4 linked regions of the Homo sapiens genome follow. The protein of the gene in region 2 interacts with the protein of the main gene of each other region in a pairwise test. Each region holds a gene or a part of one and is shown on either strand. Other genes may lie near its edges.

What was found.
Region 1: the proteins of SPART (region 2) and OTUD7B interact in binary tests that used the Homo sapiens proteins (3 or more experiments, as listed by UniProt).
Region 3: the proteins of SPART (region 2) and EPN2 interact in binary tests that used the Homo sapiens proteins (3 or more experiments, as listed by UniProt).
Region 4: the proteins of SPART (region 2) and UBAC1 interact in binary tests that used the Homo sapiens proteins (3 or more experiments, as listed by UniProt).

The regions. Positions count from the first base shown.
Region 1 is NC_000001.11:150,000,705-150,007,732, forward strand, and holds part of OTUD7B (OTU domain-containing protein 7B), read right to left. Parts: exon of another isoform or gene 6,001-7,028; intron 1-6,000. UniProt on the Homo sapiens protein: Negative regulator of the non-canonical NF-kappa-B pathway that acts by mediating deubiquitination of TRAF3, an inhibitor of the NF-kappa-B pathway, thereby acting as a negative regulator of B-cell responses.
Region 2 is NC_000013.11:36,343,392-36,350,918, forward strand, and holds the start of SPART (spartin), read right to left. Parts: upstream 3,004-7,527; 5' UTR 2,834-3,003; intron 2,743-2,833; exon of another isoform or gene 2,410-2,742; intron 2,184-2,409; exon of another isoform or gene 1,789-2,183; intron 1-1,788. UniProt on the Homo sapiens protein: Lipophagy receptor that plays an important role in lipid droplet (LD) turnover in motor neurons.
Region 3 is NC_000017.11:19,331,351-19,337,228, reverse strand, and holds the end of EPN2 (epsin-2), read right to left. Parts: intron 5,377-5,878; coding exon 5,161-5,376; intron 3,274-5,160; coding exon 2,975-3,273; 3' UTR 514-2,974; downstream 1-513. UniProt on the Homo sapiens protein: Plays a role in the formation of clathrin-coated invaginations and endocytosis.
Region 4 is NC_000009.12:135,951,353-135,958,380, forward strand, and holds part of UBAC1 (ubiquitin-associated domain-containing protein 1), read right to left. Parts: intron 4,064-7,028; coding exon 3,943-4,063; intron 2,402-3,942; coding exon 2,328-2,401; intron 1-2,327.

The sequences.
Region 1 (7,028 bases), on a different chromosome or scaffold from region 2:
ATGGTGGCTCATGCCTGTAATCCCAGCACTTTAGGAGGCCAATGTGGGCAGATCACTTGAGGTCAGGAGTTCAAGACCAGCCTGGTCAATAGGGCAAAACTCCGTCTCTACTAAAAATACAAAAATTACCTGGGCACTGTGGCACGCACCTGTAATCCCAGCTGCTCGGGAGGCTGAGGCAAGAGAATCGCTTGAACCCGGGAGGCAGAGGTTGCAGTGAGCAGAGATCGTGCCACTGCACTCCAGCCTGGGTGACAGAGCAAGACTCCATCTCAAAAATAAATAAATAATAAATAAATAAATAAATAAAGATGTGGCGGGGCAGAGGAAGTATAAAACATGAAGGAATGAACACATCAATTCAGGCCAGTAGTCATTTCTTGAGAAAGAGGAAGGAGGAAAGGATGCAGGGTGGAACTTCAGCTATATCTATAACATTTAATATTTTAAAGGGAGTAAGACATCTAACAAATATGACAAAATGTTAATGTCCATCAAGTTGGGGTTGTAGACTCAAAATTGCCTGAGTTTTTCCCCTGAACTTTTCTAAATGTTTGAAATATCTCATTATGCAAAATTGTAAAATTAATAAAGGGCCAGGTGATTTGATGAATAGAGGAGTCAACACAAAAACAGTCAGGAGCAGAATGGTTTCCCAAAACTATAAGGAGATATCTGACTTGTTCAGTTTTAGACTGAAGAGGAGCCTTCACATCCCTCAAACAGCAGCGCTTAGAACAGGGTAGAGTGAGGACTGACAAAAATGGACAAGAAGGTTTATTGCCATCTCAAATCAGATAGCAGAGGGGAGTGAAAAACCACCTTCCCACATAATTTAAATGCTAGTGTAACCAAGTTATCTCCCCTAAAACAGCCAAGAAAGCTTCCAGTTACACAGGAATTCAGATAAGTACTCACTGTGAGTAGCTATTCTGTGCCTCCTTTCTACCCACCCCTTCCTTCTCCCAAATACTCACAAACAAAAACAAAATGTACCCTTGCCCACTTGAGAAAGAATTAAGACTTGGCAGCTCTGCTTAAGTGGACAGCTTCCAAACCAAGGCCCTTCTCTGGGGAAGATGCTGACAGAGCCCAGAGAAAAGAATTTAAAAATCACAACTCAGACAAGTTTTGAGGAAGGCCTATCAATGGAAGGTATCCATCCTTCCACACGTCCTTAAGTCCCAATTTCTCCCAGGGGAATCTAAGGACTTAGAGGATGCCCTCTACCCTGTTCTGTTCTCCTCCAGCAAAAGTGACTAAAACACAAAATCCAAACTCTCACTTAGCACTTTAAAACCAAACAATTTCCCTCCACAAAAATCCAATGAAAATGAAAATACAGGGAAGATGCAGAATCTGAGTATTTAATATTTTAAAGAGAGTAAGACATCTAAAACAAATATGACAAAATGTTAATGTCCATCAAATTTGGGATGTAGGCTCAAAATTGTTTCTGTTTGGGTTTTTTCCCTGAACTTTTCTAAATTTTGTTTAGATATTCTTTTTTTTTTAGATAAATATACTTTTAATCAGTGCCCAATTTATCATAGCTTATTTAACAAGTTTCAGTGGCACAAATAAAACTAAGTTTAAAAGAAAACAACTTAAAGGGAGCTTAGTGGCAGAGATAAAGACATGCAACAAAACAAATACCTTGACATTCTTCTACATCTGAATCACTACAGCTGAAAAATCCTAACACCTCATTCAGCCCAGTCCAGGGCACCGAACTGCCCCTCTTCCCAATGGTACTCTCAGGGAACATCTTTCTCAGTCAGACCTAGGAAAATACCTCTATTCACTTTGGACTGGTTAAAAAAAGACGGTAGAATGGAATGATGTTAAGTCCTTCTATCTGCTAGTACAATGCAATGTGGCAGAATGACACAAACACTGAAATGGGACTTGGGAGAGAAGAGAGAGGTGAATTCACCTTTATTAATCACCTAGTACATGCTGAAGACTGAATTCTAGACTAAGCTATCACAGAACCACTTCTGTGATCCTGAGTAAACCTCAGGTATTCTATTTGAAAATGAATGAGGAAAACTAAGAAAGCATCGCAGCCCCGCCAGTTGTCTGATTCCATGAATCTGTAAATATGATCACTCTCAATAAATGTGTTCAGTATAATGAAGTTATTGAAAGGAATTCTGCTTTCTCCATCTCCAATCCACCCTACACACCACTGACATAATCTTTCTAGGATGTGAAACGTATTAAATGGCTCCTGATATACTGCAGTATAAGATAAAGCTCCAGGCCGGGCGTGGTGGCTCTCGCCTGTAATCCCAGCACTTTGGGAGGCCGAGGCGGGCGGATCGCGAGGTCAGGAGATCAAGACCATCCTGGCTAACATGGTGAAACCCCGCCTCCACTAAAAATACAAAAAATTAGCCGGGCATGGTGGCGGGCGCCTGTAGTCCCAGCAACTCGGGAGGCTGAGGCAGGAGAATGGCGTGAACCCGGGAGGCGGAGCTTGCAGTGAGCTGAGATTGTGCCACTGCACTCCAGCCTGGGTGACAGAGCAAGACTCTGTCTCAAAAAAAAAAAAAAAAAGATAAAAACTCTGTATGATCCAGCGTTGCCTACCTCTTCAGCCTGCCCTCCATCCCATCCTCCAGCCATAATGATTAAGTAAAAGTTACCTGAAGAAGTCTGGCCTTCATTCCTTTAAGCTTTTGTTCATGGTATTTTCTCAGACTGGAATGTAATTCTTGTCATCTGTAGAGTATATCCTTAATTCATCTTTCAAGACTCAGCTCAAATGCTAACTCCTCAGGGAGGCTCTTTCCAACCTCAGCATGCCCAAGGCAGAACTGACCCTTGGGCTCCCACTCTCCCTGCTGCATACTTCTATCACAGCATCTATCACACTTCATTCTATCTATATATTTACATATCTGTCTCCTCCCACTAGACCCATACGCTCCTCGTGGGTTCCTTGTCTCCCTTACCTCCATCTCAGTGCCTAGGATGGTGTTTACAAGATAGGAGACATGTTTAGGTTTAGACGTGTTTAGGTTTATCAGTACCATTTTCTTTGCCCTTCTGCTCTTTCCCTAAACTTTAGTCCTCAGAGAGCTTATTAATTCTCTTGGCTACAGCTACCACATCTAGGCCATGAATTGCAAAACTGCATTTCCAAACCTACCCCCATCTTTACTCCAGCTCACACCCAGGACAGCCTTCATTTGGACATTTCATTGCCACTTTAAATCCAACACATCGCAAATTATACTCATCATATTTCCCCAAAATGAGGAAAGCTTCCTAACTTCTTTATTTCACTCAATGTCTCAGACACCCAGGCACAACGTGTCACAGTTGTAGTTGACTCATCACCCTTCTTCATCTCCCACATCCACCCCTCATTAATTTCCATTTTTCCTTCACAGTCTCTTTTTCACTCTTTCCTCTCCTTAGCCTACCCTCCACAACTCTAACTCGGGCCTCATCACTTCACACACCCCCAGTGTCAATCTCCATTCCCTCCCAGCCAACCTGTGTATTAGTATCATCATACTGCTATTCTATTCAAAAATCTTCTACCATTTAAAATATAAAGTTGACCGGGCACGGTGGCTCATGCCTGTCATCCCAGCACTTTGGGAAGCTAAGGTGGGCGGATCACTTGAGGTCAGGAGTTTGAGACCAGCCTGGCCAACATGGTGAAATCCTGTCTCTACTAAAAATACAAAAATTAGCTGGGCATGCTGGTGCACGCCTGTAATCCCAGCTACTCAGGAGGCTGAGGCACGAGAATCACTTGAACCCAGGAGGCGGAGGTTGCAGTCAGCCAAGATTGTGTCACTGCACTCCAGCCTGAGCTGGACAACAGAGCAAGACCCTGTCTCAAAAAAATAAATAAATAAATACATAAATAAATAAATAAATAAATTTTATATATATATATAAACTTATAAGCCTAGCTTTTTAACACCCTCTATAAACATAGCTCCAAACCAACCTACCCACCTTCATTTCACTACTGCTCACTGCCACTCAGGTTAGTCTCCTCACCGCCCCAAGAACATCTCAGGTATAGTCCTGTTTCCAGGCTTTCGCTTGATCCCTTTCAGCTCCAATATGAAATGTTTTGTTATCCTCTTCATCTTCATCCCTTGTACCTAATACAATAACACTTATTCATTTATTTTTTTATTTATTTTGGAGACAGAGTCTTGCTCTGTCACCCAGGCTGGAGTGCAGTGGTGCTATCTCGGCTGTTTGCAACCTCCATCTCCTGGGTTCAAGTGATTCTCCTGCCTCAGCCTCCTGAGTAGCTGGGATTACAGGCGTGAGCCACTGTGCCTGGCCTATTTTTTTATTAAGATCTGAAATGAGTTATAATTCCTCTGTGACATAACTACCTGAGTACTCCTCTCCCCAAATACCTACGGTATGAGGTCTGCACTATGCAACTAACAATATAGTTTCACATTTTAAAATTTTGTGTGGCATATTAAGAGGCTCAGCAAGTATTCATTCCTTTTTATTCTTCTTACTCCCAACTGGACTGTAAACTCTTCAAGGACACAAAGTTGTCATTTTTCCTAATCCTCCATAGCACCTAGCAAAGAATTAAACTCATAGTGGGTCACTACAAATAACAGTTTAGTAATTTTCTTATCTACAGCTATTTCTTAGAGGAAATAAAGGGCTAAGGTATAATCCTAAAAAAAGCACAGTTGAAAATAATCCCTATCTAGTTGTATAAAATAAGATTCCTGACTTTTCCACCTGATTTCTAGCTCAGAAATACTACAATCTCCTGACTCAAGAAGTAAATAATAATCCTGTGCTCGTGACATCAGTTTGGTAATGATTATAAAGAGGTGGGGGAGAGTGGCAGGGATGGAGAAAAGCAAGTCAACTGGAGAAGAAAAAAAAGGGATGAAAGAATGGCATGTGATTTTGTTTACTTCTTAAATGTGGACACTTCTGCCCATTCCTTTTTTTTTTAATTGGACATACTTTCAAACAACTTTCCTACAGGAGGAAAAGTCTGACAGATTTTCAATGAAGCTGATATCTGGAAGAGCCTCTACAAAGCACAAGTCCTTTGAGAAAGCCGGCTTAATCTTCAACAACACAACATAATGTAGTGGCATTCGTCCAGATACTGTGAATGAAGGCTCATTCTGGCTGGAACACAAGCATCACCTGCCAGTCATTCTCAGACATAAGACAGACAGCCTAGGAGGCCACATTGGATCCATACAGATTTTGAAAAGAAATTGGTCTATCAACATATTCAGTGTAGTCTAGTCTTAATTATCTACAAATGGATTATTCATTTTACGGATTTCTAAGGCCAAATCTTTAATGCAAGAATGACTGTTCTTCATCATCAGTGTACTCTCCCCACCATCAGGTAATATAAGCTTAGAAATGCAAATTTATTTCAATATTAGTATGATCCCCAAAAATGAAAATAAATCTAGTTTAAAAAATAATGTATTTTCGGCCCGGCACACTGGCTCACGCCTGTAATCCCAGCACTTTGGGAGGCCGAGTCAGGCGGATCACGAGGTCAGGAGATCAAGACCATCCTGGCTAACACGGTGAAACCCCGTCTCTACTAAAAATACAAAAAATTAACCGGGCGTGGTGGTGGGCGCCTGTAGTCCCAGCTACTCGGGAGGCTGAGGCAGGACAATGGCATGAACCTGGGAGGCAGAGCTTGCAGTAAGCTGAGATTGCGCCACTGTACTTCAGTCTGGGAGCAAAGTTGTCATTTTTCCTAAACCTCCATAGCACCTAGCAAAGAATTAAACTCATAGTGGGTCACTACAAATAACAGTTTAGTAATTTTTCTTATCTAAAACTATTTCTTAGAGGAAATAAAGGGATAAGGTATAATCCTAAAAAAAACACAGTTGAAAATAACCAGGAAATGTCTTTGTTAAGTTCTGAATTACCTACAACAGTGCTCCCTACATTAGCAGAGACAACTGAGAGTTAAATGCACTTGAAACATAATGCTGTCCTTACTATAAGCTCTTGAGGAGAATCCGGCCATAGTCTTGAGACTTCCCCACAGGTTGGTGCACTACGAGACAGGAACAAGCAGGCTCAGCATAGTAAGGTGTGTAAACACAAAAACTTCTACAAGGAATCTTATGCCTCCTGGCTGTATCCCTTCAGGTTAGGATGGTACAGAAAATAAGAGTCACAATGTACGGATGCCTGCCTGATTCCTTGTCCCTGAGTTCCTGAACCAAAGGGCTCAATATTTCTCATTAAATCCGTCCTTTGTTCAAGGACCTACAATGATTCTATTGACCCTTCTATCAACACCCAACAGAGTCTGGCTTCTGAGTCCCCTCCACCCTCTTGCCTGCTCTACTCATGACTTGCCCAACCCACATTCTCTACAGTCACTCTCATATATTCCCCCCACTCACAACTTAGTCATTCATATCATCATTGCACACTGTACATTCTATACTTTCTGTTTGGAAGATCCTTTCTTTTCTTTTATTCCCAACACAGTAACTATTTCATTTACTTGAATGCTCACATTTTACAGATAAGGAAAAGAAGTTAACTTGTCCAAGGTCACATGGTAAAAAATAGCCGCAAGGTCTGAACGAAGACCCATCTAACTCAATAGCCCATACCTCTTTATGACTCATCCATAGCCTCCCAAGTCCATTTCAAAATTTACTGACTCAGAAATCTCCCCAATTTATTTCACTGATTCTTACTTTGTTACTTTAAGTCTTCTCAGCCCTTACATACTTATCAGCACGTTAAATTTGCTTTTGTCTATATGTTGTTTCCTAAATGTTAAAGCTCATAATAGTCTGCCTTCCCATATTTATACACCACCTTTCCCATCCACCCTCAACCCCAAGAGCAAAGACACATGTCTTTACATCTTTTATACCTCCCTAAAGCCTGTCACTGGAGCATGGAGACTGCTTTATCCAGAGAAGTGTTCAATCATTACTCAGCAAGGATGTCTTATTTAAAAACAAACAAACAACTCTCTTCTATTATATTAAAAAGTCAACTGA
Region 2 (7,527 bases):
AAAAATTGATGGTGATGGATATAAAACTACAAAGATATGATACCCCACTGAATACAGGTGAAAGAATGATGTACCAATATTAAAATGTTAATATCAATACCATGTGGGAAACTGCATTCTTTTCAACTAACGCATGATGTAAAATGCTGTAAGTTAACCAAAAGTGTGCAAGAGGGACAGTTTTACAAAAATTATTTGGGGGTTCACAAGCAAATTAAAAGTACTGCTTTAAAAATCACTCACAACTATAATATATAGCAAAGATATAATGGACATGGTCTGTCTCTGGCCCTCAGAAGCACCAAAATTTACTATCTTTTGTTAAGCTCTCTATATGTGTCTGGCACCCTTCTAAGGTTATCCAATCCTCACTCTTGGAGGTTGATATCTGATTTTAAAAATGTTTTACAAATATTGAGCAGCTTGCCCAAGAAGAGAGCTAGTAAATGATACATTCAAATCAGTTCATGGATCAGAAGATTATCTGTCAAGAAAATTAAATGAGCTCTCGCCTGTAATCCCAGCTACTGCACAGGCTGAGGCCGGAGGATCGCTTGGGCCCAGAAGTTCAAGGTTGCAGTGAGCTATGACTGCACCACTGCACTCCAACCAGCCTGGGTGACAGAGCAAGACCTTGTCTCTTTAAAAAAAAAAAAAAAAGAAAGAAAGAAAAGAAAAATGAAAATGAAAATTAGATGAGATGTGTTTGATTCCAAATCTAAAAGTCCTACTATGTTTACAAGTCAGCAGAGTGAGGGAGGGGTGAAGAAAACCCAGAGTGTCCCGTCGTAGAAAGTCATGTGGCTTAAATCTTCAATAGGTAGCATTTGAAAGTAGAAGCGAGGCATAATGAAGGAATATAGCTAGAAGCAATATTTACCTTGGGTATACGTTTATTTCTAAGCTTATTTTACATACGGTGTGATGAAAGATTTCCTAATAATGTGTCAATGGAGGGAACAAGATGGCTACTGAGAAAGAAGAGTGTGCCTGTGTGTAGGGGTGGAGTGGGAGGGCTAATTCCACAGGATTGCTTAATAACCTTCCTTGCTACATCTCCATCTTAAAGAGAAAAAAAGGATACACGAGAGAAGAGCCTGGGTATCTAGAGGTTATATATAAGTCTAATGGTCAATTTCAGTCTAATCTCTGGGGAATCTCAACACAGAAAGAAAAAGGTTTATATTAAAATATCACATTTTTATTTTGTGACTGGGATTTGCTATATCCTCAGCGGTCTCAGAAAATACATTTTACAGAAATAAGGATTGGAGGATGGTGACTTAAAAAAAAGCCTATTCTATTCCTAAGCACAATTAAGTGTCAATCAAGTGTCCTGAAAAGATAAAAACCATTATCACATTATTTCACATTATTTAATTTTCAAAGTTAAGAAGACAAAGTCTTTGAAATGACAATCTGATGTATTAAACAGTACCTACACCAGTGTACAGTCTTCAACAACAAACCAAAATCTGTTCCGATACCAGTAGTTCACCTAAATTCTAATTTTTTAACGTTCTAATAAAACACATTTATTTCAACATAACTACATGTATGTCTGTGTATGTCTTAAAAAATACCCGAGAAAAGGTAAAATTCTGCATTAAAATACCTAGCAATTTAGTTCGATTCCATAAACACTGAAAGAAGTAACACTCTCACTTAACAGTCAACATTACAAGCAGTCTTTAATAATACCGCATTTAACTCCTTAGAGCTAGCACAAGTTGATCTAATGCCTATTTGGCCCTTTACCAAAAAAGCGGAGGGGGCTTTGTCTAACACCTGTATACACCTCCCTCCGTAGCATCCCGCTCATTCTAGCTTCTTAGGGAAACCATAGACAACGACGTTTCAGAGAGTGCCAGAGGTGAAGCCGACCCGAAACCACATTACAGAAAGGCTTCCTGTTTCAAACAGGTCCAATAAAGCCACCAAATTAAGTCTACGATTATAAAGAACTGCGAATCAGAAAATAATTCCATATAGGTGCAGTCTTCTATTACTTTTTTCCCCACTTTCGGAAATTTCAAAGAAAAATTGCTACATTCTTAAATATGAGGCCATTATTTCAAAGGCTGTAACAACCTGGAACGCAAATTCGTTAAATTATGATACAATAAGGCCAACCTCGAGGATCCTCGGTGGACTACTAGCGCACTTCCTTACAATTAGAAAGTGAAAAACTGGGTCAGCCCTAGAGTCACGCAATAATGCTGCGTCACGAAACTGCGCATTCCAAGAGAAACTTTTCTCAGGCCCAGAATTAAGTCGGAGGGATCCGCCGCGCAGCTCAATCCCTAGGAAGCATGAAAGAATGTATTGTAAAGAGTAAAATCACGCGCAATCCATCCCAATATAACCGCAGTTGTTCGTGGGCCTTCTTGCAGAGAAAGGCTGCCCAACCTTGACGGGGCCATGGGCGCTGCGGGAGGGCAAAAGACCACAGAGATCTGCGAAGCCAAAGTAAACAACGGGGTTGGGGCGGCGAGAATGATCAATAGCGATGCTCCGAAAGGACTCCGCGATAGGAATCGAGCGGGAAGGATTCCCTCCATCCTAACAGTCCATGGGTTAAGAGGCCGAAGCTTCCCTAAATACCACACTCCCGCGAGAGAAGGGACTGAGAACAACTTCTCAAACTATTCTCTCTCGAAATCGCTCCCTTCCTCGAAAATTCCATCTCTGAGACTCGGATGAGGTCCCCACCCCCTCCACCCTTGTCCCGTGACCGTCGCCCGCTCAGCCTCCCAGCCGAGTCCGCGGGGCCTGGGGCGCCCACCCCGCCCACCCAAGGGACCGCGCAGGGGTGAACTCCCCCGCGCCCCACCTGCGCCTTCCAGACCTCGGGCGCCCCGGCGTTGCCTCGAGAGCTCCCTGCGCGGCCGCCGCGGCACGGACCAGCTCCCACTCCCTTACACTGGGCGCCGCTGCGCTCGCCGGGGGCCGGTCCCGAGGTTCCCAAGGCCTCGCGCGCGCGCTTGCCGTGGCAACCAAGACGTTCCACGACGCGCGCTCTCGAACGCTTCGCGTCACGCGGCCGCGCGGCCCCGCCCGTCGGCCTCGCTCCCGCCACAGAGCCCGCAGCACGCCGCCGCCGCAGCCTAGGTCACGTGAGTACCCACGCGCGCGTCTTGCCAGCGGATTCATCACCGGCCTGCTCAGACTAGGTTCTGCCCACTCTGACCTTCTAAATGGTACGTGGGAGGACGTCCGTCCCCTTCGGACCCAAGAGTCACCGTAACACTCTAGAAGGGGAGAAAAGGAGCGAGGGCGGCAGGCGACAGAGAACCTCGCGAGTCAGCGGCCCCGCGCAGACCCCCCCAGGCACGGTCCCCTGCGGCCACGTCGGCTGCTCGGCGCCTGCGCAATCTCTTTCTCTCCAGCGAAACCGAGGCCTCCGGAGAGCCTAGTAGAGAGTGTGGGCAGTGAGCGCTTGTAGCCGCTAGAGGGAGCGCTGGGCACAGTGCACGAGAGACAATAAAGGCTGATTATCCCCTCAATGTCTCTGCAGCCTGAGCTTTGTGACTTCTGTATCCAGAGCACAGTTAATTTCCAAAAGCCCGCCTGCACCACGTGTTTTAAGTCTTGGTGTGTGTGTAAAGTCTATATCACTATCATAAAACTGTTAGTTCCTGATTCCGGGATACAAAGAGTAAAATCAAGATGAACATACTTTACCCTTCTTGACAAGTGTTTTTAAATTAGTAAAATATTGTAGATGACAGACTCTTCAATAGGGCTGCCTTAGGGAAAAAAAAACAGAAAAAAGAAAAAGCAGTATGTACTTGCCCGGAGCATTTAGAACCAGTTTTGTTGTTGTTGTGTTTTTGTTTTGTTTTGAGACAGAGTCTTACTATGTTGCCCAGGCTGGAGTGCAGTGGCATGATCTCGGCTCACTGCAACCTCTGCTTCCCAGGTTCAAGCGACTCTCATGCCTCAGCCTCCAGAGAAGCTGGAATTACAGCTGTGCACCACCACTCCCGTCTAATTTTTGTATTTTTAGTAGAGACGGGGTTTCACCATATTGGCCAAGCTGGTCTTGAAAGCTTGACCTCAAGTTAGCCAGGCTGGTCTCGAATTCCTGACCTCAAGCGATCCACCTGCCTCAGTTTCCCAAAGTGCTGGGATTACAGGCGTGAGTCACCGCGCCTGGCCTTAGGACCAGTTAAGTGACTCCCTCAAATCTCAGAAAGGTAGCAGTCAGTCATCCCAAAAAGCAAAACCTATTAGGAATATATTAATACAGTGGTTTCAAAATGATTTTGCTCTTATACCCCCAAAGGAGTCCCCAAAGACTATGACTGTATTCTCACTTCCACGTTTTTGGATTGACCATCACAATTTCTCATCTGACTTAAATAGTTACAAAAGAAGCAACTTCTGTTTTATTATAAATTAACATTTTAAAATAAAAGTTATATAACTTTTAAATGTAGCCAGTGGAATCTAAATACCAATTTAATATCTAAAATCATCAATTTTTAAAACTACATGAACAAGCTTTTAACAGAAGGAAATTTTACATCATTTCTTTTCTTCTTGAACTCATATTTCCGTTCCATATTGTGAAATTGTATGTCAATATTTCTTTAGTCTTGCAAATATTGGCCAGGCTTGGTGGCTTATGCCTGTAGTCCCAGCTACTCCAGAGGCCGAGGCAAGAGAATCGCTTGAGCCCAGGAGTTCGAGACCAGCCTGGGCAACATGACGAAACCCGTCCCTACAAAAAAACACAAAAATTAGCTGGGCATGGTGGTACACATCTGTAGTCCCAGTTACTCCAGAGGCTGAGGCAGGAAGATCACCTGAGCTGGGGAGGCAGAGGCAGCAGTGACTGAGATTGTGCCACTGCACCCCAGCCTGGGCAATAGAGCCAGACCCTGTACCCCCTGGCCCCCACCAAAAAAAGAAAGGAAATCTTTTATTGGTCATCTACTCTACTTCTTTACATTTAAAAAGTACATACATTTAAATAGAATTTTTTAAATTTCCAACAGCCATAAAGATGAATGTGTTTAAAACATGTAGAATTTCTATACACAAAATTGTTATATATAGAAAACCCTAAAGAATTTACTACAACACTGTTAGAACTAATAAATGAGTACATCAAGGATTCAGGACAACAGGTCAACATACAGAAATCAATAGTATTTCTATACACTAGCAATGAACATTTCAAAAATGAAATTAATTCCATTCATAATATTATCAAGAAGAATAAAATACTTAGAAATAAATGTAATAAGTGCAAGACTTGTATGCTGAAGACCATACAACATTGCTGAAAGAACTTAAAGACCTAAATAAATGGAAAGACATCCCATGTTAAAGGGTTGAAAGACTTCATATTGGGAAGATGGCAGTACTTCTCAAATGGACCTCCAGACGCAACACAATCCGTGTCAAGATCCCAAATGACTTTTTTGCAGAATTTTGCAAGCTGATCCTAAAATTCATACAATCCAGGGAAATATAAGGACCCAGAATAGCCACATGAGCACACACACACAGATCTTGAAAAAGAAGAATGAAGTTGGAGGACTGACACATTCCAATTTCAAAACTTAACTACAAAGCTGCAGGCCAGGCATGGTGGCTCACACCTGTAATCCCAGCACTTTGGGAGGCCGAGGCAGGCGGATCACCTGAGGTCGGGAGTTCGAGACCAGCCCGACCAACATGAAGAAACCCGGTCTCTACTAAAAATACAAAATTACCTGGGCGTGGTGGCGCATGCCTGTAATCCTAGCTACCCAAGAGGCTGAGGCAGGAGACTCACTTGAACCCGGGAGGTGGAGGTCACCGTGAGCCGAGATTGTGCCATTGACTCCAGACTGGGCAACAAGAGCAAAACTCTGTCTCAAACAAACAAGCAAAAAACTGCAGTAAGTCAGTGTGGTTAATTTTTGTTTTATGAGGTATGTTTATGTTCACAGAAGCTTCCACGTATGGTTAAGTTACTGCTAGCCATAGTAGTCTAGTGCTGACTTCTAGGAATATTCGTACTACTGACTGCAGAATTACCTGGCATCCAAACAGAAAGACACTGGCCAGGCACCATATTGCTTTCTGTTTGGGTCCTACAGTGCCCAGTACCAGAAGGATGTGGTAGAAGGAACAAGTAAAGTGAACAGGGCCAGAAGCTCATCTGTAGAAAAGTGTAAGCAAAGGATTTGGTTTGCTCCTCAGTACCTGGTCAAAACCTGTATTAGTGGTCCTTCCAAATTCGATAATTGTGAAATTCTGTGACACTCTTAATACTGAATTATGAAGCTGAACTGAGCTTTCCTAAATTATATTAAAAAGCTAATCTTGATAAACTATGCTAGAGGAAAAACTGAATTATCTGTTATCTCTGTGGAATATGTTGCAAAATCATTTTCATATGAAGAAGCAATCAGCATAGAGCCAAGAAAGGTGGGGGAAAGTATTATGGGCTGTGCCAAGCACCTGAATAATAGAATGATGTTATTTTTCTGGATTTTGTGGTATCTGTAGTATTCGTCAGCTTTTTTAAATTAGTAATTTTTTGATTCACTTTTATTATTTTCCTACAGAAGGCCATTCAAACTGTGAAAGCTGCAAGCATCACAAAACTTGGATCTGCTTAGGCCAAAGGGGTGCTTGAGATTAGCAGAAAATAATTGCGTATATTTGGAAACATGTAAAAAGCCATTTTTAACATTTAATATATCTTATTGAGGTAAAACAAGGATTGGATTGTCAAATCAGACTGACAAGATTCAGAGCTTTCTTTTACCCAGTCACAAGAAAATAATGGCAGTATCCAAAACCACTAACCCAGGTCCCCAGGGCTTCCCCGAATTCCTTAGAACACATTCTGGCTTAGATCTCGCAGGTGAGGTCTCTGAGTAAGTTATGCCGGTGAACACTTACACAGATGGAGCTCTTTCAGTCAGGAACTATCTCCGTTTTATACTGAAATAATTACATGGTGGACACTGACATTTTCCACTGGGCCATTCCATGTATTAATATATCGATCAATTCCGGGTTTATTTACCTTAGGCCATCTAGACAGACCAGGTGTACCCTGCTAAAAAGCATTTCATAGACAAGGACTCCCCATTCTCTTTCCACCAGAATATACCTTGCATGTTTACAAGGAGATTTGATTTGGTCATTTCCACCTGGCCATCTCAGGATAGGAATAATTGGCTAAAAACCAGCTGCTGTCACTTAACTTCTAACTTTTCTCCCCTGTCTTTTTTTCTTACCAGATCCTTCTAAAAAAAATAATTCTCTAAAACTAGTGAATAATTGTGGCTGAGGTCTTTAAATGAAAATTACCATCATACCATTATAGAAGAGAACAATATTTTGAAATCATGGCACTTTTGGGGCTTTTACCCCTGGGTAATGCACCAGAGTAAGATTTAGGGAGCTGTGTATTTCTTGCATAAAGTGGGAAAAGTTTTAGTGTGAAAGGAGGAGTAGGAAAAAAGATACTAGGAAATAGCACATAAAAAATTAAAATCTGGGTATTGATTATCTTAT
Region 3 (5,878 bases), on a different chromosome or scaffold from region 2:
AAGAACCAGTGGCTCCAACAGGCCCTTCCTCTCAGGAACACGCAGTTGGCTGGGCAGCTCCACGCACTCCCTCCCTCTGTTGCCTCAGCTGACAGGCAGTGGCTTCCCAGAGCAGCTCTTCTGCAGCATGGACACAAGAGGAGGCAGAGCACAGGAAGCCTCTGGGGACCCGGCACACTGTCACTTCCACCTCATCCAAAGCAGCCTCCACCAGTGACAAGGCCGCATTAAGAGGGCGGACACAGAAGGGTAAAGGGCAGTGGCTAGCACTTCCCCCAGCACACCCGTGCAGGCCACCAGTCTCAGCACCTCACAAAAGGCACGCCTCCCACCCCCTTTCCCTGAGGTTCAGGGGCAACCAAATGCCCAGCTCACGCGGGCACTAGGACCAGGCTGGTGGCCTCAATAACTGCAGACCAAGCTCCACAAGAATCGGCTCCCTCATCTCCCACCTCTCCAGTGGCACAGGACTGATGAAGATGGGGTGGGAGAAGGACACAGCCAGAAACCGCATCATGGTACAAATGATAAATTATATTTATACAGTAAATAAGTATCAACAGTCAACACAAGTTCAAAACCAGCCACCGGCCTCTGGGACTGAGAAACAGCTGGGTGACTTCCTCCACCACGGTGCCCATCAGGAGGGAGCACGATGGCACAGGTGCAACATGCGTGGCAGTGGCCGGTGGCTTCATGATCAGTGCAGTGGGCAACAGGGACATGCACTCGGGATGGCCTGTGCCAGAAGATGGGGCAGGGGGCTGTCTTCTTGGGTCCCGGTGGCCCAGTGGCTGTCATGTTGGGGCCTCAAAGTCACATCATGAAAGACTCGTTACAAAAGAATCACTGACCCCAAGTAGTCGAGTCTAGTCTACTGACCTGTAAGGCTGGCCCAGGCCCTGCACCGTCTGAAGGAAAGCACCTTTCTGGGCAAGCATCCTGCCTCCCATCCCATTGCACCTCCCCACCCTTCCCCCGGCAGACGAGACCAGCCACCGGCTTACCCAAATGGCAGCGGGAGCCTAAGACCCAGCCGCAGGCCTGCAGTTCTGGCAGAAGGTGGCTGGTCAGGAACTCTAGACACGGCTCCTGGGACTGGAGAGGGCGGCCTCAGGAACAGCATGAGTGGGTGCAGTCCCCACTCAGAGCCTGCATGTCCCAGCAGCCCAGAGACCATTTAAGATCTCTCCTGTGCCGGTGCGAAGGGTAATCTTCTGGAACCAGAGAGGGGCTGGCAGGTGGTCAGCTGCCCTTAGAGCTAGAGGTGAGAAATTCCCATGGTGGAAAAAGGGCCAGAAACATCCACCAGGCAAGCTGCCCAGACACAGGATTGGGGGAATGTCCCCTCCCTGGGTAAAAGCAAGTCTTTTCTGGTCTTTAATGCACGACGTAATACTTTTACAGTGGTGGGTGAGGTGAGGACAGTAGGAGTTTGGAAGAGGGAGGTAATATTAGTGCATGTTTGTTAAAAATCCCTCCCAGGTGAATGACTTTTTTCTTCATCTCCAAAATACAAGAGAATTATTTTTAGGTCTCCAACTTAAAAATAATATCTGGAGTTAGCAGGTAGGTGGATCAGGGCCAGCCCTGGTCCCTTAGCCCCCCACCCCTGTCTTAGCCTAGGGACTGTTGCCCAGGGACCCGTGGGCACAGAAGCACCCCCCACCCCACGCCCTCGGGACAACTGCCATTTCCACATTATCCCCATCTTTAGCCTGAGCGTGGATTAAGACAGAGGAGATCACAGACACACAAGGTTAAAGATGTTTCTTCCATTTCAGATTTCCATTGTAAACAGAAGTCCTGTTAATCCCTGCATGCCTTTAATAAAAAAAAGGAATTAGTTGATAAAAATTGGTGAGTCACATTCATACATTAGATTTTTTTCTTTAACTTTCAGGATGTTGGTATATTCGTAAGAAAAATAGCCTCTCAGGATCTAGCCAAAAAGGCTGAAAGTCAATCAGTTTAGTAATTCACCAAAAACAGGAGCTAAAGAAAGGAAAAGGCAACTGGAGGCTAGGATTTTTTGTTGCTGTTGTTTTTTTTTTAAATAAACATCATCATCTATGTGTAATCAAATTCCCATATTTTCTTCCTATAAAGAATTTGCTTTAGTTTTTCAATAAGGCATTTTTTTGTCATCCAAACATCTCTTCCTTTTAAAATTTTCTTAGAGTTAAAACCATAAATAAGAGGATTTAAACCACTAAAATGACACGTGCCAACATCTTCATTCAGCCAGACCTGGTAAATTCTATCAAAACTAGACAGTTAAATAAGAACCACGTTATAAAAATATTAGCCAAAAAAAGACTATTAGATAATTCTGCAAACTCAAATATGAAACTGTACTAAACAAAATATGTGCAAAGGTACACAAGCATAGAGCCACGTTGGGGGTTATGCTCAGATTAGTTTTAAAGCTCGCTCTAGTGGATTTAATTCAAGAGTTGTCCACGGTGGTGGTGTTTACTTTGAACTCACACGAGTCAAAGAAAAATAAAATATGCACAACCACTTCCCCAAAAGGTGTCTTATGGAGCCGGTGCTTCATCGTGTCCACACCCAGGACTGCCTGGGGTGTCCCTAGGGCTGGGGGGTGGGGAGGACAAAGACAAGGCCACTGTCCCAAGTCCTGGGCCAGGCAACATCCTGGAGACCCTCGGGCTGAGGTTAGGGGCAAGGGCAACACTGATGACTCCACGTCCTCGTCCAAGGCCTCAGAGGAGCCCTGCCAGGACCTCAGTGCTTTGGAGGAGGTGGTGAGAGCAGGCCAGGCTGAGGGGCCTGCCTTGGAAGGCGAGGGTCTGAGGGTTGGGGCTGTAAAGACAGCCCTTTCATCAGGAAGCTGGAGCTGAAAAGCCCTAATACCCCTAATCCCCAAACTCTTGGATCCCGTCCCACAGACGAGAGTCCCTGCTCGGCATCCTCCAGCACAGGTGCTCTGGGTGGGTCCCAGGCCCAGGCACTAGAGAAGGAAAGGGTTGGTTGTGCCAGTGGCCTGGGCTGCTGATGGGGGTATACCCACACTGCCCACCATGTTCATCATTGCAGGGCCCAGTGGTGTCAGAGAGGAACCAGTGGCCCCCAGAGCTGGCTGTGGGGCCGCGGAGGTCATCGAGGCCACAGCCATGGACTCCACTCCTGGGCCAGGCCCAAAGGATGTGCTGGTCCCCAGGACTGGGCTCCCCCGAAGCTGGTTCAGTGTCAGCGGCTGGGGCTGGTTCACCTGGAAAGGGTTAACAGGGGCCGAGGTGGCGGGAGCACCTGGGGAGACAGAAGGAGGGGCAGAGGCTGAGCCGTCAGGGTGTGGCTTTCTGAGCTCCCAGGTCAGGGACTGCATGCGGGTGTTCTGGTCCCTGCTGTGCCCTCAGAGCCCGTGACAGTGCCGGCCGAGTCCATGGCAGACACTAGCAAATATCTGCTGACTGCATGAATCTGCACTTTAAGGATGAGGAGATTGAGGCTGTGAGAAGCCAAGTGATTTGTCCAGCGTCACAAAGCTGAACAAGGCCATGCCAGGAACACACCCATCTCGGGGCACCCTGGCTCCTCTGCAGTGCTGGCACCCAGGACACCTTCACCAGCCATCAGCTACCACTGCTCCCTCATTTTGTTTGCTGAAAGGGACATGGGACTGGCAGTGTGTGGCTCATGTGGCAGTGCCCACAATGCACCCAGGGATCCACATATGACACCGCGAAGGCTAGAAATCCTGCAGTCAAGAAGTTGATGCAGCTTTGTCTTTCCCAGTGTCTCCAGAATTTACCTCATACCAGAAAGCCTTTTCTTTGCAAAAGTGTGTGCGCTGCTGGCACCAACTCTCCCATGCAGCCTGGCCCTACCCTGTGTGGCCTGGAGAATGGCCCTGTATGTCCAGCAGAGTTGCCCAAACCTCCTCCATCTTGGCTGCAGCCCCCAGGAACCATGACTGGTGTGCAGCCAACAAAGCTGCCTCAGGCCTCCAGCCAGGTGCCCACCAAGAGCTGACAGACACAGATGACCACTGGAGCTCCTGCAGGGCCTTCAAGGGCTCTCTGGGCAGAAGAGGCATAAGGCCTCCTGGGGCAGACACAGACTCCTGGCTGGCTGAGGAGGCTGGAAACTAATCTAGTTCCACCCAGGGAACCACCTCCCCTGGGGGCAGCCATGTCCTCACCCATCTCAGGACCTCAGGGTTGGCCAGGACCCAGTAACTCCACACACCTCACCTCTGCCCAAGGGTCCCCAACCTCAGCCTCTGTAAGTTCAGTGGTAATTCTCCTCTGCAAGGTACTGTCAGGGACGGTGGCCCAAGATCCTCAGATCCCTACATGGTGGGGCCAGCCTGGGGCTGAACACCTGAGGGTGACACATTCCTGCCCTGGGGGAAGCCCAAGGCTTTGGGGAAACCCCGTGAGGAAGGGGGCTGGGTGGACTTCCTAGAAGGGAGTCATCTGAGCTAGGTGTCAAAGGATGAGGAAGATGCTTTCATTAGGGAAGAGGAGGGAGGACATTCCAGGCAGGGGAAACTGAGTGTGTAACAGCCTGGGCTTAAGGAAGGGCTCTACAGGCTGAGGGGCGCCAAGGGGCTGGATGTCACAAGGGTTTCATGCACACAGGAAGGGAAGAGGAGGGTGGGACCAGGCCATAATGGCCCTGGATACCCAATTGAACAGCTGGGGGCTTGGCCGGCAGCCAACATTGAGCCCTGAGGGCAGGGGGCAGACTCTGGCACCAGGAGTGGAAGCAAGGGACCTGGAGGAAGGCTTGTACCCAAGGGCTAAGTTACATTTTTCCCGAGAGAGGAATGCTACACGCCAAACCCTGGCTCTTCCTCACCCCCAGCAGCCCACCCTACTCCACCTGTCTTAGAACTGACATTCCCTCGAGGGTCTCACAACTGGGGGGGCACCAAGTCAGGGACAGTTTCTGCTTGGTAGTCTCAACTGAGAGGAGAGGAGCTATTTCCTACCCATACACTCCCCACATAACTGACAACGGCTTCCACACCCCACCCCATGCAGCACTGGCGAGGGCATACGTAATCATCTAGAGATTCCAGCTAGTCCCACCCCTTCCCCGTCACACAGTGGGAAGAGCCCCCAAGAGGCCTGCTGCACACCCATTCCCAGGCACAGCAGGCAATGGATGAAGCCTGGGATGAGAGCCTACCTGGTGCCAGGAAAGGGTTGAGGGACTGGGCTGGTGGGGCAGGCCTGGTCACCAGTGAGTCCAGGTTCACCAGGGCCGCGTTGGGGCCCAGGAAGGACTCAGGTGTTTTCCGGGCACTGCTGGGCTTGCTTGAGGCGACAGTCAGGGGTTGAGACTCAAAGGGGTCAGGGCTGGTAGTTCCATTGTTTTGGGATGGCAGAGAGGTCACAGATTCGGCTACAAGACAAGGACACATATGGCAGGGTGAGTGTGGCAGGGAGAGCCTAAGACTGTGTACTTAACACAAAACATGGCCTCCTGGGGACATGCCTGCCTGACAGCGCCACGTGACGACACACAGCCAGTCATGGGCTGGGTTAGATAAATCAAGTGTCCACATAACGAAACACCAGCATGCAGGAACAGAAGAATACCTAATGATAAGCAAAGAAAGCTTTATCAAAATACTAAAGCAGGTTATAAAAGAGTGTGTATAGCTCATTCCTCCAGAATACCAAGATGTCATTTTGGGTTGGAAGCTAGGCATGGGCAATTTACTTTTTTTTTTTTTTCTTACATTTTCCATTTACTAAATTTTCCACAATAAACATGAACTTCTTGATAGTAAAAAGAAAGCAAATTGTGTCTTTTAAAATTCAGCCCATAGAGGCAACACAGGCTGTGCTGAGCCAGGCCGGTAGGAATGTGATTGCCACGACGGGATGCTTCACGGTACAGG
Region 4 (7,028 bases), on a different chromosome or scaffold from region 2:
GGTGGCACACACCTGTGGTCCCAGCTACTCGGGAGGCTGAGGCAGGAGGACTGCTTGAGCCCAGGAGGTCAAGGTTGCAGTGAGTTATAATTGTACCACTGCACTGCAGCCTGGGCAACAGAGTGAGATCCTGTCTCTAAAACAAAAACAAAAACTAAATTAAAAATTAATGTAGGCCAGGCGCAATGGCTCATGCCTGTAATCCTAGCACTTTGGGAGGCCGAGGCAGGTGGATCACCCGAGGTCAGGAGATCGAGACCAGCCTGGCCAACATGGTGAAACCCCATCTCTACTAAAAATACAAAAGATTAGCCGGGCGTGGTGGCACGCACTTGTAACCCCAGCTACTTGGGAGGCTGAGGCAGGAGAATCGTTTGAACCTGGAAGGCGGAGGTTGCAGTGAGCTGAGATCACGCCACTGCACTCTAGCTTGGGTAACAAAAGCGAAACTCTGTCTCAAAAATAATAAAATAATAATAAAAATAATAATAATTAATTCATAAAAATATGAACTGACATCTTACAATGTTTCAGTTTGCAAATATTTGAAGAGAAAAGGTAAGCTCCTCAGGTTAGCTCCAAGCTACCCATCCAAGAGGCTGTGGGGCAACGGGTGTATGGTCAGACCCCGCTGTTTATATTAGTTACGGGCCTGTAAGTCTGAACACCAACGGTCAAACTGTAATCTGAGAACTGTGAATGCTGCCTGCAGCAGTTCCCAGAAACAGGCCTGACTCAGGGACAGGCGGAGGCAGGCCCAGATCTGTCCGCTGCAGATGGGTGGGGCGGCAGCCTGTGTGTCACTCATGCGTGGCCAGGTGTGGCTGAAGATAAGGAGGGGACCCAAGCCCAGGGTGCTCTTCCTGGGTACCCATGGTCCCAGATGAAACCCAAAAATAGCTTATGCACTACCAGGCATGGGCCTAGCCCAAAAGAGTTTGACCTGCTCTTTCTCTGGGGTGAACACTCTCCTTAGCCTTTCAAAGCACGAGTAAGAAATTCTACCCTTGAGATGAGTAATGCAAAGACAGCAGAGGAAAGTGGCTGCCCTTCTAGCTGGCAGGCTCCATGCTCGGCACGGGCTCAGGCCCTGCTGTGGGGTAGGACACGCCACTTGCAGAACGCATCTTCCTCTGCTCAGTGAGCTTTCCAAAACATGAGCTTCTAGGGCAGCCAGTAAACAACACACTGCACGGTGTTCCTAAGGTACACGTGCAAGTGGACGGTGCAGACCATGAATCAATAACGTGTGAGTGAATGTAAACACCAACGACATCCAGTTCTGTTTTGCAAGAAATAGACAAGACAGGCAGAACTCAGCCTCTCTCAGCATTAACAGTGCAGCTGAGTATCCCTCATCTGAAATGCCCGGGACCAGAACTGTTTCGGATTTCGGGTTTTTTCAGATTTGGGAATATTTGCATTCCAAATAATCAACTCAAAAAGCACCAACGAGCACTTCCATTAAGTGTCATTTTGGCACTCAAAAAGTTTCAGACTGCGCTGCATTTCTGCGTTTGGATTTTCCGATGGGGATGCTGAGGCTGTGCGGTGTGAGGTGGGGCTTGTCGCGAGTGCTCCCTCACCGGCCACTCTCTGCATGCGCAGCCCTTATTCTGTGTGGTGGTTGGTTACCCACTTTCCTCCGTTTTTCTGTCAGGACTGACTTGGCTGCTTGAAAAGAGGAGGGAACAGGAGCACACGCAGGTGAAGGCGGACAGCAGCGCGGGAGTGAACCGTCACGCAGGATGTGTCCCTACCCTCCTCTCTGTCTCAGAAAACTCAGAGGCAGGTTTTCCGTGCTGGTCCCGTGAGCAGGGAGGGACCAGGACTGACACGGATTAAACAGGCTCTGCCGGGAGAGAGAACCCCTTATAACCACATCTACTGTAAATGGCGAATGCGTGGGTTGGTGAACAACTAGTATAGAGAACTTCTTTATAATTCTTTTTTTTTTAAGTTTGTATTTATTTATTTAATTTTGAGATGGAGTCTTACTCTGTCGCCAGGCTGGAGTGCAGTGGCACGATCTCGGCTCACTGCAACCTCTGCCTCCCGGGTTCAAGAGATTCTCCTGCCTCAGCCTCCTGAGCTGCTGGGACTACAGGCATGAGCCACCATGCCCAGCTAATTTTTTTTGTATTTTTAGTAGAGCCGGGGTTTCACCATATTTGCCAGGATGGTCTTGATCTCTTGACCTCGTGATCCACCCGCCTCGGCCTCCCAAAGTGCTGGGATTACAGGCGCGAGCCACTGTACCCAGCCTGTAATTCTTAAATGTAGACTTCTACCAACCAAGGTCCCCAATTGCAAACTTTGAAATTTACCTTTTCTTCTGCTGAGACATCAGCCATCTTGGGAAGTGGTGATGGAGCACGCTTTTTTATCAATAATAGGACATCTAGAAAAAACAACACGTATATCCAACACACTGGTTATCACTTCATATCCACAAAATGGCATAAAGGGTGCTGGATGCCCTGAGAACAGAACAGCAGGGATTCGGCCGGGCGCAGTGGCTCCCATCTGTAATCCCAGCACTTTGGGAGGCTGAGGCGGGCAAATTACCTGAGGTCAGGTGTTCAAGACAAGCCTGGCCAACACGGTGAAACCCCATCTCTACTAAAAATACAAAAATTAGCCAGGCGTGGTGGCGCATGCCTGTAATCCCAGCTACTGGGGAGGCTGAGGCAGGAGAATCACTTGAACCTGGGAGGCGGAGGTTGCACTGAGCCAAGATTGCACCACTGCACTCCAGCCTGGGCAACAGAGCAAGACTTCATCTTAAAAAAAAAAAAAAAAAAGAAGAAGAGCAGGGCTTCAGCTGGGTGCAGTGGCTCACTCCTGTAATCCCAGCACGAGGCAGGCGGATCACTTGAGCCCAGGAGTTCAAGACCAGCCTGGACAACATGGCGAGACCCCATCTCTACGAAAATATAAAAAATAGTTGCGCATGGTGGCACATGCCCGTAGTCCCAGCTACTTGGGAGACTGAGGTGGGAGGACTGCTTGAGCCCAGGAGGTCAAGGCAACAGTGAGCCTGACTGTGCCTCTGCACTCCAGCCTGGGTGACTGAGCGACACCCTGTCTCAAAAGAGCATGGGTTCCTTTGGTCCCCCCAAACCAAGCATCTACACCAGCCTTCCCTCACTTTTGCATGATATCTGCATGGCCCTAGCTGAGGTACAAGCTCCCAGGCCTGGCACGAACCCCCAGGTGACCCATGGCCCAGGAGGCAGGCACAGCACGGCCCCAATAATTGTGCAAAGAATTGGTGACAATCCTGCAACAGGCATTTTAACCGGCTCAGTTCTGAAAAAGTCTGTGAGGGTGGAGAGTTTAGTCTTAACCCTCAGAGGTCAAAACCTGAGATGCAGCTCATCCTCGGCCCACGACGGTGCCCATCCCCCACTGGCTTGGAGCTTGATGGTCATCTCAGCGGATATCTGTTAGCAATACTTCCAGGATTTTCAAAACAGCTTACTTCAAGGACTTCCACAATTAAAGGCATTATTTGAATGACACAGACAAAACTGATGTCTGCTCTTCAAGTGCCTCCAGACACAAAACCATAAGCAATTACATGGATGTGTGTGTCTAACACTGCACTGGGATGCCAACATCACCACAACGAAGGTGAAACCTGCAGAACCCCTGGAGTCTCTGGCTTTGCTCTGAAACAGAACTAAAAGCAAAATTCACATTTGGCTTCTCAAATGCCTGCTGCTTGTTCAATTTCAATTTCTGCTGTTTTTCACAAATACTCTATAACAGAACTCTTTTTAATAAAGGAAAAACAGAATGCTTTTAGTCGATCTCGTTTTTGTGCTCGTGTCCAGCTCAGAACACTGACTCCTGTGGGTGGACCACCCCCTCCTGGCTCCAGCGCCCCCAGCAGTGCACGATGCCTGCTGCCAACCCGCCCGCCCACAGCAGCCTTACCTTGGTCCTGGATGTTCTCTTCCAGGATGGTCCTGGCATCACTCAGCACCCTCTCTGAGGCAGCGTGGATTAATTTATGATGGGTTATACTTTTGGGATCTTCTAAGCTCCCATGAGCACACTGGGGAAAAATAGAAATTTCAAGGTAGAAAATAAGTAAATCGTAATTCTAATAATATAGGACCTGGCATCCCAAGCTACACCAGGAATTTACTGGGTTTTCTTATGAGCTAAGAAATTACACCATGGATGAAATTAAAGAATTCCCACTAATGGTAGATGCCAAATGAAGCATCATAGCACCAGTGAGCTGATCCCCAGCCCATGGAGTACTCCTGAAGCAAGCTCCCAGCTCTGATATACCACACCCTACTGACAATTCGCGGCCACCAGAATTGCTTCTTTGGTCTAGAAAGATCTGGAAAATAATTTTAAATGAAAACAGCAGATCCATTGTTTCCTGATGACCTAAAGATCTACCTAAGTTTTGGGTAGCTGTTTTTCTTTTTTCCACAGACGCATGAAAGGGGCCAGAAAGGCTGCCCAGAAAGAAGACTGGCTCACAGAGAGCCTGAGATGGGGATAAGAGGAGCGCTCGGCATGACTGCTCTCAGCTTGGCTCAGCTCACTAAGTAACAGCCATGCTGCATCCCGAGATTGGGATAAGAGGGGCACTTAGCATGACTGCTCTCGGCGTGGCCCAGCTCACGAAGCAACAGCCATGCTGCACCCCTGGGCGGCTTGAAGGTGGACCAATGGGCACGCAGTCACCAGGGCCCTGGAAACCCTGCCACACCCGGGCAGGGAACGGGAGGCAACACATGGGTAGCAGTGAGGGGATCCCCTTCACACACACCACAGCCACCTCCGAGCAGCGCTCACGGGGGACCTGGGAAGCCATCTTGACAGCTACTGAGTGCAAACTCCAGGAGGAAGTTGGAGCAGACGGCCATGACCCCTTCCAACCCTGCCATTACAAAGATCTCACAGCCAACTGCTGGCAGGGGTAGATCCTGCTCCTCAATTCGGCCAGCATCCTCTCTGCAAAACAGCACACAGCTGTCCCTGATTCATGCACGTGGCACTGGCTTGCGGGAGTCCTGCTTTCCTTTGAACACGGGGGCTAGGCGCGTCGGCTCACCATTTTGTGAAGAATGGCAAACACTGATGGTGCCGTGTGATGAAGACTGAGGTCGGCACATGTGCCTGCATGTTCGTGCCCAAGTCGGTCCAGAGCTCCACGACTCCACTCTATTATCTACCTCAGCACCATACAGCCCGACACACGACAGCACAGCACAGCACACCACCGCACAGCACAGCACCGCACACCACACCAAACAGTGCCCACCTAACCAAATATGGCGCCTCCCCAGCCGGAATCGTGGGGTGAGAGGAGAGGGGCTGCACTTCTGTGTTTCACAAAATACCCACAGTTTCCATAGCCTGGCCTGAAAACCCTTCAGAACTCAGAGCTTGGACGGAGAGAAGGCTGACTATTTTCTTGCTCTTACAGATCCCCTGAGGTTTGATGGTAGAATTACCTGACTATCAGAAAAGGATGAAACCCTCACTGGGCACTTTCTAAACCCGGTAGCAGGCTCAGCCTGTGGGTCAGGAGCATGGCCCAGCCTGGAGCTGGGCCGGGGCACCACCCCAGGACAGGCCGTCCTCGGACGTCTCAGGTGGCCGGGCAGACGCCCTGCTGGCAGCTCACTTTCCACCACCCTTTGCTGCCACAGAGGCTCTGAAACACCCAGCACACACAACTGCTTGCTGGGAAAGAAAATCTAAGCACACACTTCACCTCTCAACACTGGCATTTTCAGAGTAACTGGAATTTCTGTTACTCTCAAGACTGAAAACGGTTTTGAAAAAGGGATTGACGGCTTCAGGGGCTCACTCCTTCACACAAAACTGGCCAGGCTGAGGGGATGTTGGGGGGACGCAGCTACTAGGAAGACACACTCCTGCCATTTACAACAGGGCAGAGAACCCTCAAGTGCCTCTGGATTTGACAATGGCTCTGCTCCCTGAAATACTGGGGGTGCTTCCTCATGATCCTAAAGTTTGCAGGCTAGTTCATTTGTCAAGTTCAGAATACAGACTACGAAATGCAGTTTTCCAAAATAATTCTCATACTGATTCCCAAAAAACCCACAGTCCACGTGTCACCAGCACACCAGGAACAACACGGAAGCACTAGGACGACCGTGTCACTCTGCTTCTTTGTTCTCGGCAGAAGCTGGGGTATGGCAGCAAAAAAGCCCCAACCAAGGCCGCTGGAGTAGGGAGGCCCTCACACCCCCACCCCACTCCATCCTGCTCCTCCCCAGAAGAGTAGTGACTTCGTTTCTGCTTGTACCTGATGCAACCTGCCATCTGAGGACCCATCTTCATGCGATCTAGGAAATGGAAAATTTAACAGCTATACTAGCGGGTACTCTCTTCTAGTCTGGCAATTTTATGAACTCCTTCTTTTTTTTTTTTTTTTTTTAAAGACAGGGTCTCATTCTGTCACCCAGGCTGGAGTGCAGTGGCGCGATCTCCGCTTATTGCAACCTCCGCTTCCCAGGTTCAAGCGATTCTTGTGCCTCAGCCTCCTGAGTAGGTGGGATTACAGGAGTCCGCGACCATGCCAGGCTATTTTTTTACATTTTTAGTACAGAAGGGGTATTGCCATGTTGGCCAGGCTGGAATTTCATGAATGTTTACGACACACCAAAAACTCTACTGCACCACAGGTATAATTTTCTTTTTTTTTTTTTTTGAGACGGAGTCTCTCTCCGTCGCCCAGGCTGGAGTGCAGTGGCTTGATCTCGGCTCACTGCAAGTCCCACCTCCCAGGTTCACACCATTCTCCTGTCTCAGCCTCCCGAGTAGCTGGGACTACAGGTGCCCGCCACCACGCCCGGCTAATTTTTCTGTATTTTTAGTAAAGATGGGGTTTCACTGTGTTAGCCAGAATGGTCTCGATCTCCTGACCTTGTGATCTGCCTGTCTTGGCCTCCCAAAGTACTGGGATTACAGGCATGAGCCACCGTGCTCAGCCAGGTATAATTTTCTAAAACTCATTAACTACCTGT